Linked DNA regions of Homo sapiens: region 2 is linked to region 1. The links come from fine-mapping of genetic effects on gene expression. Tissue or cell type: cerebellum. Region 1 holds a variant in brackets; the other region holds the start of a gene. All regions are shown on one strand. Distances are between the middles of the regions.

Evidence for each region. PIP is the estimated chance that this variant, and not a neighbour inherited with it, causes the effect.
Region 2: it holds the start of TSPAN18, and the variant in region 1 is fine-mapped to the expression of TSPAN18 in cerebellum (GTEx, PIP above 0.99). The same link has a PIP of 0.9 or more in cerebellar hemisphere.

The regions. Positions count from the first base shown.
Region 1 is chr11:44,908,711-44,916,812 of GRCh38, forward strand. It overlaps TSPAN18 (tetraspanin 18), which reads left to right. Exons shown (of 10, transcript NM_130783.5): 5 at 995-1,189. Among named protein-coding and RNA genes, the nearest start is that of TP53I11, 38 kb to the right of the region's middle. RefSeq lists enhancers at 2,297-3,153, 6,866-6,965. The variant G/A (reference allele first, on the strand shown) is at 3,729.
Region 2 is chr11:44,723,270-44,731,371 of GRCh38, forward strand. It overlaps TSPAN18 (tetraspanin 18), which reads left to right and starts at 3,693. Exons shown (of 10, transcript NM_130783.5): 1 at 3,693-4,018. All of the region lies in intron 2 of TSPAN18-AS1 (TSPAN18 antisense RNA 1), which reads right to left. RefSeq lists enhancers at 2,221-3,081, 3,082-3,943, 3,310-3,479, 5,195-5,697, 5,698-6,198 and silencers at 3,670-3,819, 4,656-4,825.

The DNA of each region.
Region 1 (8,102 bases):
GTAGCAGAGCAAGACTGTCTCAAAAAAGAAAGAAAGAGAGAGAGAGAGAGAGAGAAAGGAGAAAGAAAGAAAGAAAGAAAGAAAGAAAGAAAGAAAGAAAGAAAGAAAGAAAGAAAGAAAAAGAAAAATGGAGCAGATATTTATTGAAATCTGCTAAACGCCTTCTATCCTTTCTTCCTTAGGGCTGCCTTAGGATGAAGGTGTTTGAGTCTTCTTTTGACCACAAGGAAGCTAAAAGGCTCAGACAGATTTTGACACTTGCCTAGGGTCACACAACTAATAAGTGGCACAGCTCTCTCTCTAGACTACGCTGCCTCTTTCCAAAGATAAATAAGGCATAGAGAGCCCATGTTGATGGAGACATAAATAAGAAATCTTTTGAGCTATGGATTTGAGAGTGGGGAGCCCACTCTCAAGTTGGAACCTCACTGAGAGTCCCATGGGGGACAATGACGATGACTTGGTCTGTGTCTTCCCAGCCCCTAGCATGGGTGGTGCAAACACAGCATAGGGCTGACTCAGAGCATGTTCATGGACCTTTGTTTAGGGTGTTGAGGCTGGAGTCAGGGGGCCTGCGACCAAACTCTGACTCTGCCATGAACTTGCTGTGTGACCTTCAGCAAGTTGTTGGTTCCCTCTGTATGGAATCAGAGGGTTGGACTAGATGACCTCCTAATCCTACAGGTCTGACATTTCAAGAGAAGATAAAATTGGCAAATAGCCTTTATGTGATACAGCCCGAGGTGGGGCTTGGGTCGGAAATTGGATTTAGAGGATGCGTGTTGCACTTAAGGTCACGGCAGCTAGAAAAATTAAAAGCAATTCAAGGTGCGGCTGGGACTCACTGGCTCTCGCCGCAGGTGAATTCCTGCCTGGCTCACCTAGTGCTTGATGCCTCTGACCCTGGGGCTGGCTCAGGGGAGTGGTGGGTCAGAAGTGCCTAACCTCCCTTTCTGCCTGTTTCTCCTCCCAACTCCTCCACTGGCCCGAGCAGCTGGGCGGGGCCTGCCTGCTGGCCATCGGCATCTGGGTCATGGTGGACCCCACCGGCTTCCGGGAGATCGTGGCTGCCAATCCTCTGCTCCTCACGGGCGCCTACATCCTCCTGGCCATGGGGGGCCTGCTCTTTCTGCTCGGCTTCCTGGGCTGCTGCGGGGCCGTCCGTGAGAACAAGTGTCTGCTGCTATTTGTGAGTACCCCAGCCCCCACCCCATCCATGGGTGCTCTGAGGGGTGTCAGGGATTGGCTGCAGACTCCCAGGCCCTGCCTGGCTTCCATTCAGACCAGTGCTTCCCAAACTGGGGCGGGCTGTCAAAGCAGAAGGGATCATGGAGATGAGCACGTCTGACCCCACTCATTTGGTAGTCAATGGTCCTGAAACCCTGAGACATTCAGCAACTTGCCCAGAGTCCCATGGAGTTGGCAGCAGAGGGGATGATACAGACGCTAGGTCAGGGCCCCTGCAGTGCCTCAGGCTGCCTCTTCCCATGCCTTTGGGACCTGTTTTCTCCCTGGGGTAGCCCTTCCTCTCTCCCACTTCATTTTGCTGCTTTCCTGCAGTCAATCCAGGACCCTTGGCTTAACACACACCTAGTCTGTGTCCGCATGCCAGGAAACTCAGAATAAGGTTTGTGCCACATAGGTCCACCTCCAGGGGTGGGGCGGTCCCCAGCCTTTTCCATCTGCCTTGGTGGCCCCAGCTTCCAGAGCCTGCTTTTGCAGTGGGCCCGTGCCTGCAGTGGGTGAGCTGGCCCAGATGGCGGGGGCCTTGGCATCCAGGTCTGAACAACCAGGTTTCTCCAAGGCATGGTCAGCTGAGAGCACTGACATTGACCTTGATGTTTTTCCACTTGCTTGCTATTAAAAACTCTAATATATAACTCCTTAGTAACATCGCTAAGATGCCTAGTGGATGAGGCCTTCCCCTTGTAGATATGCAATTCTGAAACGGTATGATATGGCCTCTGAAGGTTTCTTATTCATCAAGTAAGTAGCCCTTGAACTCCTATCATGCGCATGTAGTTCACTGGGTGCTGAAGATATGTCGGGGACCAGGAGTGATGGTCCCTTCCCTCACAGACAGGCACAGGGGAGGCAGCCGAGCCGTGCGGATGAGCTGGGCAGTGGGCAGGCCTGGTTTGAGGGTACTCCCTGCTCCATCCCCTAAGGGTGTGCCTCCCATCTAGTTCCCCAACCTCCCAGAGCAGCCATGTCTTCTTGTTAAACGAGGGGGCCGACCAGCTCAGCTATAGATCACAGCCAAACCAGACAAGCAGTGGGTCTTCTCGTTCTCGAGTCTCCTGGATTCCCATGGGTGGTGGCGCTTGGGGCCTCCGCCTGCTTTCCTGTGCTGGGTGGATGGGTCTTCTCTAAGAGGTCCTGGACTTGGAGAACTTCTGGGCTGAGCCCAGTCCCGCTACAGGGTAAGTTAAAAACAGCCCTGTTTAGAGAAGCGTGGGTGTGTCTGGGTAAGCTTGCGGATGCTCCTCATGGGCGAATTCGTGGGCGGAGTTAAATGACAGGGAGAACTGGGCTGGTTGGCTGGGGGGCTCCCTTGCAAGGTTCTGTAGATAAGCCAGCACCAGCAGTGCTGGGAGGAGAGACCTGGCACCATACCTCCTCCCCAGACGAGAGCACACTGCACGGCCCCATTTGTGTCCCGGTGAGATGCTCCCCATCCAAAGGAAGTGAAGTCAGCTGCGAAATGAGTGACAAGGAGCCTTGGGCCTATTTGTCCTTCAACAGCGCAAACACTGCAGACTTCATTTGAAGAGAAACAAAGAAAAACTTTGAGCGCCCCCTGGTGGACAATTCTCTACAGCTTGTCACGGTGCTCGCAGAAGTCTTGGCTGGGGAGCCCGAGGGGACTTTAAAAGGAGCTTGGATATGGGTCCCAGAACAGACCCAGCCTCCCTTTCCCCCTCCTCACCTCGGCCCCCAGGGACTCATTCATTGTTAATGGGCTCGGCTCTGAAGCCAAGACAGGAAGCCAGGCTGGTGTTCTTGGCTGGGAGCAGGCTGGAGCGGCTCTAGTCTCCTCCAGTAAGTGGCTGCCTGCAAACCTGCCAGCCGCCCCAGGACGTCCTCCCTCCCGTGCTATGCGAGGCAGGACTGAGGCCCAGGGGTAGGAGATGTGTCCACGATCCTCCCGAGAGAGGTGATCCTGGCTGCCAGGCTGGGGGCCCTTCGACAAGGCCTGATGGCAGATCCTTCCCCTTCCCCTCCCCACCCCCGCCTCTCTCCCTTTGTCCCCCTTCTTTCTGCCTATCTCTGTGTAGCTCCCTTTCCTCTCTGCCTCTGTCCTCCCCATCTCTGTCCTTTTTTTTTTCGAGACAGGGTCTCAGTCTGTGGCCCAAGCTGGTGTGCAGCAGTGTGATCTCAGCTCACTGCAGCCTCAACCTCCTAGCCTCAAGTGATCCTCCCACCTCAGCCCCCCGAGTAGCTGGGAACACAGGCACGTACTGTCACGCCCAGCTAATTTTTGTATTTTTTGTAGAAACAGGGTTTTACCATGTTGCTCAGGCTGGTCTTGAACTCCTGGGCTCAAATGATCCACCGCCTCGGCCTCTCAGAGTGTTGGGATTCCAGGCGGGCACCACACACTTGGCCTTGTCTTTCTCTTGATCTCTGTTTTTATTCCTACGCCCTTTCCTTGTCCCTGTCCTGATCTCTCCCTCCCCGTTTCCCTGTCTCTCTCTCCACTTCCCCTGCTTGCCCTCCCCTCTCTA[G/A]GGCCCCGCCCACACAAGCCTGAGGTCACAGTGTGGGTCAGAGGCAAAGGACGCTTGGATCAAGGTCTTCTGGCTCCCAGACCAGGGCTATCCACAGGCTCTGGATAGCCTGGAATGGACTCCAAAATTTACCTAAAATTATATGCAAAATGTTATGTTATGTCAGGTCCTGTGTATGTGTATTGTGTATACATGGATTGTGTGCATACTCATGTGTATGGGTACAGTGTGTATGTGCACGTGTGTTGTATGTGCATGTATGTTGTGTTCTATCGTGTGTGTTTGTGTGTACATGTGTGCATTGCTTTGTGCATATGTACACGTGCATGGGTGTTGTATGTGCATGGGTGTTATGCATGCATGGGTGTTATACGTGCATGGGCGTTACATGTGCATGGGTGTCATGTGTGCGTGGGTGCACATATATATGCATGTGCACATGTGCCTGTGTGTGCACATGTGTGTTGTGTGTGCATGTGTGTTGTGTGCATGGGGGTTGGGGGGGTTCTGTGAGTGTTTCCAGAGAAAGGCACCAAAGTTTCTGGAAGGTTTTCAAAAAGGTTTATGCCCTAAAAAATAAGAAAAACCACTTCTCCCTTCCCGGCTGAACCTGGACCTAACTGTGTGGTGGTTCCAACCGAAGAGGGCATGGAGCCTCACCCCTGGCAGCTTCTGGGATCCTTCTAGAAGCCTTTCACTGCTTTCTCAGCCTGTCAGAAAGGAGAGAAGGCTTGTCTTGAGAGGGGCCAAAAGAGTGACTTTAGTCAGCCCAGGAAACCTGGCTCAAAGGTTCACAAAGCAAGGAGGCCTTGAGATGGGGCTGACTGTCCCCTTCCCTCTGCTCTGAGACTGAAGTCCTACAGGACCTGGGGACAATCAGTCTAATGACCAGACCACCTAATGATCAATTTATCTATCTAAAGGTCCATTTCCCAAATACTCGTGTTGATCAGTATTACAGCACTCACATGCAATAGGACAATTTCAGCCTCCTATTGAAAATTTGTGGCATCCCTTTTTCTCATTTGCTTACCTTTGAGTATTTCAAGGATTTTTTTAAGCCAACTTATTTAAAAATTCTAATTTTAAAAATATTTTATAATGAAGGCAAGCTCAACTGGAAAAAAGAACAGCAAAAAGAGATGAGTATATTCAAAAAAGATAAATGAGCTGAATTGTACATGCAGTATGTAAATTTGGTAAATATTTATTAGAAATGGGAACTGTGAGCAGACATTGCCTATAAGCAGATGGGTTAGAAAAGCCTGGAAATGTTCCCAACTAGACAACATAGCAGTTTCCTCCCCTTTGCTAATTTTTCCATCCTAAGGAAAGTGATGCAAATTAGAGGATCAGGAATGGCTGACAAAGGTGTCCTTAGGCAAATGGGATGCAAACCCTGGGAAAGGCCTTGATGAGGGGAAGCCCCAGGAATGGCTGGGTCCAGGGGAATTCCCCAAAGGACTTTAACACTGGTAAACTGTCTTAAGCAGGAGGACATTTTCATGCTGGAGAAGGGCGAGTTGGCAGAGGTGGCATTGTGACTGCCATGGGCACCTCAGCCTTGCACTTTGGTTCACAGGATTCACACTCCCACATACTCAAGTCATGCCCAGGCCTTGGGCTTGGGGAGGCCCACTTCCTCCAGTCCACGGCTTCCCAGGTTTATTCTTATATCTCATCTCCTGATGCTTCAGCTCAATGGAAACTCCATGAAGATGGGGACTGAGTCTGCCTTGTATGCATTTATTTGCCAATACCTAGCACAGTGCCTGGCACAGAGCAGGTGCTCAGTAAACAGCCCCGGAGCCAAGGAACAGAGAGGAGGTGGTAGCAGAGGTTTGGCTAAGAGCATGGACTTTGGAGTCAGAAAAGCCCGGGCTCTAACTCCTGCTCTGTCATTTCCTGGCTGTATGACCTGGGGCTGGTCACTTAACCACTCTAAACCTTAGATTCCTCATATACAAAATGAGGATAATCATACTTCCTTCCCAGCCATAGTGTTGCATTCATGATCCAGTGGGAAATGCATGTTTTGCTTGGCTGTGTTTGTGGGATGCCTAAGCACTCTATAAATGGGAAACTAGAAGAATTGGTGCTGAGCCTCAGGAGGCTTTGCAGGCCATGTAGAAACCATAAGACCTCGGGGCTCCTGTGGCTTCCAGGGTAACATGGTGATGAGAGGCTGTGTTCTGCAATCAGAGTTCTTGGGGTGAAGTCCCAGAGGTACTGCCCACCAGCTATGCCAGCTTGGGCCGAGTACTGTTCCTCTCAGCCACAATCCGCTCTCAGTAAAATGGGGGTGTTGCTGATAATAGCATCTGTCTCACTAGATGAGAGGGCTTGATGAGATGATCCATGTAAGATCCGCAGTGTCTGGGTAGCAAGGACTCAGCAGGTAGCTATTGCTATTTTTCCAGAGCCGCCCACACCAGCACTTGTCTTCGGGAAGGATGTGCTTCCTCTGGGCTCTAAGTAACCATCTGAGCAGCTCTCATGTCATGCCGGTCTTGCGAGAAGCACCGCACCTGCATTACCTCGTGGAAGCCATGCGCAGTCATCCTGGATGGCACACACACATCCCAGAGTGACGGGCACACAGAGTACACGAGGCCTGTGATCTGCTTCGTCCATTATTTATCACTGTCCAGGCCGAGGCTGGTGGGCACGCCAGCTCCAGCTCATTGCCGTGGATGGAAACCATTTCTGAGGCTGCTCCTTGCCAGCCTGGGGACCTGCCAGTGGCTCCAGTGAGAGGGCAGAGGGTGGGGAGGGGCTCCTCATAGAGGACCCATGTAATGGAAGCGGATGGCCATCCATCACCAGCCAAATGGAAATGCCAGGACCCCTGCCAGCGGCCTCCGTCACTGTCACAGGGGAGGCGAGGCTGCAGAGGCAGAAAACACATCACTCAGCAGCCACTGAGCCCAGAGCCCCCCACCCTCCTGGAAATGAGAATTGTAGGAGTGGCAGAATGGACCATGGGCATTGTGACCTGGGGCACAGGAGGCTTCCCCCACCCCACCCTCATCATACTCTGCACTGGTTGGGGAACTCTGCTCCCTGACCTCAGCTGGAGGTCAGTCCCTTCTTCAGGAAGCACAGGAGCATCTGGCCTGGTGTCCCTCATCCAGATGTGCCAGCAGGCCACCCAGCAAACCTCAGCCAGGCAACCTGCTGACCTGTGGAGACAGACTCATGGGCTCAGAAGAGAGTGACAGAGCAATCCCTGAGCCTCGCCCTGCATCAGGGAGCAGACACAGCCTGGCGCTCTGAAAAGGCAGCTGGGCCAGGAGGGGAGTGTTCTTTCTGCAAAGCTCCAAAGAGCTCTGCACCTGTGGAGTAGTCACTTCCCTTCTCCAGCTTCAGCTTCCTCAACTTCGAAAAGGGGAAACTACACAAAAAAGAGACCGTGAGAACAGCGTCCGGTGCCCGGCGGTCCCCTGTGAGAGCAGAAGCCTGTGTCGGAGCAGCTGGAGCCCAGTGAGACCTCAGGGGCTCAGGAGCCCATGGTGCATCTGAGGGCTGAAGCAGACTTGATGTGGTGGCTGGGGACAGAAACCAGCCAGCAAAACGCAGGATTGAGGAGTGACACATCCCCGCCACGGGCTGGGCTGCTTTGCTGAAGCAAGGGGCTCTCTTTAGGTTTGGACACTTAAAAAACTAAAACCCACTTGCCAGGCCTCGGAGATGTTTTATGTCCGTGTGCTGAATGGACAGATTCTATACTCCTCCCGAGGCGCTCACTAAGGTGGACCCTGGCCCACACAGTTTGGAGAGGCCTCGGGACCTCTAGAAGGCAGCCGCTGTGGATGCTGAAGAATCAGGGAGGGAATTGGACTGGGGTCTCCCTGGGGTGGGGATAAAGTGACAGAAATCTTCCTCTGATCACAAGAGGCACATTCCAGGAGAGAGACGCCTGAAGGTATTGTCAGCAGCCCACAGAGCATCTGTGAGGAGGCCAGTGCATCACCAGGAGCCGGGCCTCGGAGGCCACAGAGGATCCTGCTCGTGGCCCACATTCACTCCCCTTCTGCACATGAGAGCCCAATGCCAAGCTCTGCTTGGCTCATTTCCAACAGGGGAAATGCTTTCACATGCCTCGTGATTCCCCACGGGGAATCCCCAGAAGTGGGTCTCCACATCCCCATTTTTCTGGCAAGAAAACTGAGGCTGGAAGGGGTTTGTATGAGTGGTTGTCCCATGACACACGAGGACAGACAAGGTGGGCCCTGAGGTGTCCTGACTTGAAGCCCAACACCCTTTGCCTCCTTCCAGCCTGGCACATCGGGGGCAGGCAGGCAGGCAGGCGGTCCTAACGACTGGGACCCCAGAGAGCAGGTCTGGCTGCTGCCTGGGTGCCTGGGAGGGCAT
Region 2 (8,102 bases), 190 kb before region 1:
TCCAGATGCTGGAGAAAGCGAAGCCTAAGAGCTTCCTAGGGGAAAGGTGAGTATTTTCAGAAGAACCACTTCCACTAGATGCCCCAATTCCAGAGGTATTGAAAGCACCCTGGCCTGGGAGTCAGGAGGTCTGGGTTCAATGCCCAGCTCTTAACCATGATGAGAATCTAGTCTATGTTTCTTCCTCAGTTTCCCTATTGGTGAAATGAAGTGGTTGGATTACAGTGAATTCTCCACAAGTTTCCTTCCCGAATCTTTTTAGAACTTTCAGGCCAGGCCACTTCCGGGTTTCTGCCAACCTAGACTCCAGTGGGTCGGCTCTGGCCTTCACTGCTCCTTCTCCCTCCTGAGGACTGCCCATCCATCCACAGCCCCACCACCTGCTCTTTCGTTCCTTCCCAGCTTCTCCCCTCTTTAGCCCCTCTCCTTGGTGGAGACTTCACCCTCTAAGTTTCCTGATAAGCCACAATCTTGGTGTCTTACTTGCTTTCATCAAACAGCCAAAGGGATTCTATGGGCCATTTGCCCAAGCCTCCATTTTACAGATGTAAGGACCGAGGCCAGAGAAGGGAGGGATTTCCTCAAGATTACCTTGTGAGAGGGAGGTGCGGTCTTCCTGTAACCCGAGTCAGCCTTATCTTGTCCAGGACTAAATTTTTCGGGCGCCTAACTTTAAAAAAATAAAGTACTTTTTTGGCCTAATATAAGGTTGGTACAAAAGTAATTGTGGTTCTCGCCATTACATTCAATGATGAGATCCACAATTACTTTTTTCTTTTTTTTTTTTTGAGACAGAGTCTAGCTCTGTCGCCAGGCTGGAGTTCAGTGGCGCAATGTCGGCTCACTGCAACCTCTGCCTCTCGGGTTCAAGCAATTCTCCTGCCTCAGCCTCCCGAATAGCTAGGATTACAGGCACGTGCTGCCATGCCCAGCTAATTTTTGTATTTTTAGTAGAGACGGGGTTTCACCATGTTGGCCAGGAGGGTTTCAATCTCCTGACCTCGTGATCCACCCACCTAGGCCTCCCAAAGTGTTGGGATTACAGGTGTGAGCCACTGCACCCAGCCCACAATTACTTTTGCACCAATACATAGAATTATGTTTCCCAATTGAGAGGACATTCGAGATGTTCAAGGAAATTAAGGTCATTGGAGGTAATCCAAGGGCCTCCAATACCCTAATTGACCTGGTGAGGAGTGGGAGTGGAGGGGGTCCCTTCCCAATTCTCTTTTCATCAATGCTCTTGATGAAGAGTTTGTTGCTAATGTGTCTTTAACACCTTTCTAGCCTTTGGTAACCTTCCTTTCAAAGAGAAAGTGGGACCTCAGCTTCAACACCTCCTCAGGCAGCAGTATCTTGTTAGACTGTATTATTATTATTGTGGTTAAAGATACATTGTTAGAATTTAATAACACTTATTTTCATTGTATTTATTTTGATGGTTACCTTCTATTTATAGTAATGTGATGCTGGCTTTCCATTTATGGTAATAATTTAACATATCTTTTTAAAAACAAGCTCACTTAAGTAAATTAAAAAAGAATGAAAAAATAAGAGTTGATTTAGAGAAGCCTATTCAGCAGATGTCCTTAGCTAATGCACAGATAGGGCCAGGTCCTCCATGGAGGCTGGAGAGAGGCTGAGGTCCAGGAAACTGACTTGGAACTGGAGTCAGGGACCGAGCTGGTTGTCTAAGTTGTGCAGCGGGTCTGCACTCTCTTCCCCTGCGCCTGCCCCGTTCTGCCAAGCCCCAGACCCTTAGAGACTCTATCCCTCTCTCTGCCTGTCTCTGGTCTCCACTTCCCCAGCTCCAGCACCCTTGCTGTGGGCTTCCCGTTTTTCCTCTTTAAATGTATGTGGCGCCTGGTGTCCAAGGAGGCTCACACGGGGCCTCTCCCAGCAGCATTCCACAAGTGCAGGGCCTGTGGGGTGTTCAGCCTCCACCCTCCATTCTGTTTTGGCAGCTGAAGGGTGAATGTGGAGCCCTTCTCCTTGTCCTCCTCTTATAGAAATTCCACCATTAGGGACTTCCTCCCCTTGGGTGAAGCTTTGCTCACTCTGGGTCCCTTTGAAACCGCGGATCCAGGGATTTTTCTTCCAGCCACGTGCCTACTCTAAGAGTCCCGGTGACGCGGTGAAGTTCTTTAAAGGACCAGACATCCCTGAAGTCCTTACAGGGACATCCCCTTACAGGGACGAATCCATTTCCTGGAATGTGGGCAAGGAAAGGCAGCCACTTCCTGCCTCTCAAAACTCTGGCTGGTGGCTGGGTGCAGTGGCTACGTCTGTCATCTCAGCACTTTGGGAGACTGAGGTGGGAGGATCACTTGAGGCCAGGAATTGGAGACCAGCCTGGGCAACATGGTAAGAGTCCAGCTCTACAAAACACACACGCACACACACACACACACACACACACACACACACACACACACCAAAAACAACAGAAAACATTAGCCAGGCATGATGGCACATGCCTCTGGTCCCAGCTACTCGAGGGGGCTGAGTTGGAAGGATTGGATTGCTTGAGCCCAGGAGGTCGAGCCTACAGTAAGCCGTGCAGGAGGTCGGGCTACAGTGAGCTGTGCTTGTTGACCAGGCTTGTCCAGCCTGGTCAGCAGAGCGAGACCTTGTCTCAAAAACAAAACAAAAACAAAACAAGAAGATCCCCCTCCCCCCAAACTCTGCCCAGTGGCCTGACTACCAACATCCATATACAAGACAGGAGTAGGGTCAACTCCTTCCTATCAGTCACCCCTTAGTGAGAATCAGCTGGCCAAGGGGCCTCCTGCAGAGCTGATGTGTGCTTGAATGCCTAGGGCCCACGGGGATGGGGTGTGGAAGCTTCAAGCTGGGACTCAAAACAGAGTTGCCAAGGGAAGAGGAGTGGGCGACCCGAGCCCCTGTCATCAGTACTTTCACTTGGGCTGTCAGTTTTGATCTGCTTGCTTGTCCGTTTTGTCTGGGGCAGGGTCGGGTAGTTGTTTAGAGGAGGCTCAGAGGTTAAAAGTCTCAGGCAAGTCATGTCAGGGGTTGGGAGCCAGTGCTGCTGTGGCAGCAGTACAGAGAAGAAAAGATAAGCTCCCCAGCCCCGCAAGAACCTCAGCCCTGAGGCCGGAGACACAGATCTGGCCCCTTGCAATCAAGTCATTTGCATCTGACCTGGGGTCAGGCCCCTCCATGCAGGAAGTCCCCTTTCTTATCTGCAAGTCAGAGGAGGGTGAGTTCCCCAGGCTTTCAACAGGTACTTCCCCCGGCAGCGGGAAGCCCAGGAGCCCGATCAGGACCGAGGATCTCACCCCAACCCCTGCGTTTGGGCCCCGGGGTCAGCTGAAAGTTCCCCTGGAATAAACACTTCGGGTCCAGCATGCCCCTCTCCCCACTCCCGCAACGATCTTCCGAATTCAGACGCAGAGAGGGCCCGCGAGCAGAGCGGGAGGTGGTCGGAGGCGGAGGAAGGGGAGATGGGCAGAGGGTGGGCCCAGGGACCCCCAGACAAGGCCTGGACGCGGGGTTGGAGGAGGAGGCGGAGGCTGGCGGGAGGCGAGGGGCAGCCCGCAGAGGAGACGCGCTTCTCGGCAGCAACGGCGTCTGGAGCCGGGAGGGGCGGAGGTTTGGGGAGGGGGAGGGAGGGCGGGGGAGGGGAGGGACGGACGGCGGCGGAGGTGGGGCCGGCGGGCTGGCGGGCGTGCAGCTGCCGCCGGCGTCGCGGGGCTCCAGGCTGCGGGGCGGACGTAGCGCCGAGCGATCCACCGCGGAGCCGCGCGAGGCCGCCCGAGCCCCAGCCCCGGCCCCGGCCCCAGCCCCGGCCCCGGCCCCGGCCCCGGCCCCGGCCCCGGTCCCGGCCCCGAGCCCCGAGCGAGCGCCGCCGCCTCGCGCTGCGGGTCCCCGGACGCGCCGCCACCGCCGGGAAGGCAGCCGGCGCCGGGCAAGTTGCGAGCGCGCCCCTCCGACCAGGAAAGTTTCCCCCCGGCCGCCGGCGGGATTTGGCGCGGGGTCCGGCAGCCGCCGCTGGAAGGTATGGGGCTCCGCACCTCCGTGCCCTCCGCACGCCGCCGCCGCGCCCCCGGGGACCTGGGGACCCCCCCGCGCGCCGCCCCGGGGGTGCTGCTGGACGCGGCGGGGAATTGGGGTGGAGTAGGGATCCCAGGACGGAAGCCCGGCAACCAAGTTCCACTCAAACTAGCACGCGGGGGCTGGGGGGCCGGGGACGGTCTCCACCCCGTGCCTGCCCGGAGTCCGCTGAGGGCCGGGGGCTGCGCCCAGGACAGGTGCAGAGCCGGTGGGCTCCCAGTGCTCCGGGTGGAGGAGTGGGGGCTTCTGGAGAACGGCGCGGGGTGGCAGGTGTGGTTACAAGGTTCGGGGTTTCGGCCAGGGCTGCGCCCGGAAAGGGGCTGCTCGCCACGCCACCCGGTAAGACAGTGAGGGACCAGGGACTGGGAGCGGCGATCGGGGCCGGGAGGGCTGTGGGGCCCGGCAGCTGCATGGAGGGCGGGCTGCCTTTGGGGTCCCTGGCAGCGGGGCGGGGCGGGGCGGAGGCGCCACTCGTTCCTCCAGGACCCCCCTTATTCCTTAGGTGTGTGCGGTTTGGGGAAGTGGAGACTCCATGGAGTGCTGGGTGGGTGGGAGGCTCGGGCACGTCCAGATTTAGGGGGCAGTGGGAGCCAGTTGGGACGGTGCTCGGCTCGGGTGGGATCGCGCCGGCTCCGGGTCCTGCTGGAGTGAGGTGACTGGGCTCCCGCCAGGGGGCGCACTGCCCCGGCCCTCGCCAGCAGGAAGCGCGTTCTGGCTCCTGCGAGGCAACCGCGCCGACATCCAGGACGCAGGGACCACAGACACCCAACTTACGCGGGGTCCCGCCCCGAGGAGCCCGCCCTACACTAGCCAGACGGGGGAGCGGGACCAAGAGTGAGGCGAAAGGTTCACAGTTATAACTGCGCCGTGGGCTGGAAAGGCTAGGAGTCAGGATGTGATTTTTCTCGGGAAGGCTGCCAGGGCAAATGGATGAGTAAGAAATTTACCCCCAGAAAAAGATGTAAGAAACTACAACTGCGAATTGGTGCAGAGAGAGTGGGTTGGGGAATTAACTTTTTGACGGTTTTTGGAGTTGCAGAAACCCAAACCCCAAAATGCATGCACCCTTTTTGTAAAAGTTGCACCTTTGTTTCCTGGATCTGGTCGAATCCCTGTCTGGTGAAGGCAGGATGGGGGTCTTGGGGTATCCTCTCTCTGGGCACAAGTAAACTGGGAGGCACAGGGCGGGCGGTGGGGGATGGGGCCTTAAAGACTTCAGCAGTCCAGGCAGAAGTGTTAAATTTCTCAGCAGTCAACGAGCCCTGGCCCCCACCCTCATCCCCTGGGTCTGTGGTCTCTAGGCCACATTCTTCTGGTCATTTCACAATTATTGGTGGAAATCTGCCCTGGGTCCCAGTTGTCTGGCCTCAGGGTCCCTGTATGTTGAGTCTGTGTGTCTGTGCCTTGGGAAGTCGACGGCTGCTGGCATCTGTGAGGACTGTCATCTTTGTCATGTGCGGGGCTAACATTGAAGGGACATTGGAGGGACTATTGCCTCATCTTTCTCTCCAGTTCCCTCCCTCCTCCCATCACCCCAAGTGAGTGCAAAGGAGCAAATCATAGATTGTGCCGTGGCCTCATTGTGGTTGGTAGAAGTTTTCATCTTTCTCTTAGCTGGTAACCTGTGCTCCTTGGGCAGCCCCCCTCCTGCTCCCATGTCCTTAATGTCCCTTACAAAGGTGGGGGAAATGGGGGTCCCTGAAAGAGATGAGGTTCCTCTGTTCAATGTAGTCTGCCACATGTTTTTGTTGGATGCTACTGAAATGCTCCAGGACAAAGTTGCCATAAAGACAGATCAGCATGATTTTTATTTTGAATAGAAGAGGAGGAGGAGAGAGGAGAGAAAGGAAAGGGTGGAGAAGCCTGCTGTGTCTGGATAGGTCTTTAAGACATTCCAGGGGGCTGGAAAACAAAAGAAGTTTTTTTTTGTTGTGTTTTGCTTTTAGTGACTCTTGTTTTTCTGTGGAGGGAAGCCTGCATGGACCAGCCCTGCCTTGGAACCTGCCTGGGAGCATGGGGCCCCTAGAAGGCCAGCGTTTCCCGTGTTCTGTCCCTCCCCTCTTCTCCCTACCCCCACCCCACTTTTCCTGAATTGGAGAGGGAGTTGAAGGTCCCCAAGGGCTACTAAAGTCTGTGTTTGGGCTTAAAGTATCTTGTGTGGGCTCAGTCTTCTCCCAGGCAAACTCCAAGATCTCTGATTTAGCAACATTTCAAGTCTTGGGCACTCTGTTTCCTTGTCTCCCTTGTCCCCAAACCCATTCAAACAGCCAGTATATGTGGTGCTTTTACCCAACCCCAGTCTGAAATGGTAGCACATCATTGAAAGCTCCAGGACACTTTCTAGAAGCCGAAGTTAGTTGGGTTTAGGATACCTTGGGGTTGGGTTTAGGACACCTTGGGCTGAGTCCAGGAAGGAACCCTCTGCCCTTTAAAAAATGAGATTTTAATGGTCTGAGGGGTGTGTTGGAGGGCAGGGTGCTGGGTAGGGACACAGGATTAATTCAAGGATGTGTGGGAGGGGGTGCCAGGAAGAGGGAAAATAGCAGATTTGAAATCTAGCTCTTCTGAGTCATCCGTGTGGCCTTGGGCAGGTTATTTCCCCTCTTGAGCCTGCTTCCTCCGTCTGTAAAATGAATATGTTGGCTGAGGAGATTCTGAGCTATCTTGCAACTTAGAGCAGGAGAGTCTAACCTTTTAGGGGGCTGGGCAGCCCTGCTCCATTCCTTCTGCCTTCCATTCAGTGGAAGGTGCCTCTCCGGGCTGGCTTGCCTCTCTCTGCCCGCCTGTACACAGCAAAATCCTGCGTTGAGTGAATGCAGCAGCTTCAGAAACCAGCTCCTGCCATCAGAGCTGAAGGACAAAGTGCCCAGCAGTTTTGGGTAGAGAGGGGAATGTCTGTAACCAGTCCCTGCTGGGAGCCCCATGTTAGTCTGCAGGCTCGCTCCCCACTCTTCTTGGGAAGAGCCCTTTCAGTTCCTGGGGTGCAGGTTTTAGGGACCTCTCCCTTTCCAGAGGGCTGCTTTTCTGGTCTATTTCATCAGCCATTGAGAGGGAAAATCAGGAACATTTGTTCATGCTCAGCTGGGGTGCAGCACAGGGAGGGGGCCTTGGAAACCAGCACTCTGGTCCCACTGAGCAGATGACGCCCATTGATCAGGCGTTTCTACCACCTGATGCCATTGAGCAAATGTACCAGCTTGGGCTCCTCCTGCCACCCGGGCTGGCACCTTGGACCTGCATTAGTGCTCCATCTGAGGGAGTGGGGGTGGATCATGAAACACTTTTTTTTTTTTTTTTTGAGAGACAGTCTTGCTCTGTCGCCCAGGCTGGAGTGCAGTGGTGCGATCTTGGCTCACTGCAACCTCTGCCTCCCGAGTTCAAGCGATTCTCCTGCCTCAGCCTCCCAAGTAGCTGGGATTACAGGTGTGTGCCACCACACCTGGCTAATTTTTTTTGAATTTTTAGTAGAGACGGGTTTCACCATGTTGGTCAGGCTGGTCGCAAACTCCTGACCTCGTGATTCACCTGCCTCGGCCTCCCAAAGTGCTGAGATTACAGGCGTGAGCCACTGCACTTGGCTTTTGAAACACTTTTTATAAAGAATGGGAGAGTAAGATGGTGAGCCTGTGTTTGCAGCTGGCAGGGCTGGTCTTTCATCTGGGTACTTGTTGTCTTAAGATTCAGCTCTTGCCCCTGGTCTGCACCCAAGACTGCTGGCTTAATTAGTGAATTCAACAACTTGGAGATGAGCAAAAACATGTTCACTGGTGGTGGGCAAGTGTGTACAAAAGGCAACAGGATGGAGCAGAAAGGTAGCTGAACTAGGCATTAGGAGACTGGTGTTCCAGCCCTGATACTGTTACAGATGGAGCGATGTGGCCTTGTGTGAGTCACAGCCTCTCTCTGAGCCTCGGTTTCTCTATTTCTTTAGAGGCAGCAGTGCGTGGTGGTTAAACTGCCTGGATTTGCCTGTTAGCTTTATCATAACTTCATATCAATTGTGTGACCTTAGACCATTCAACCCCTGG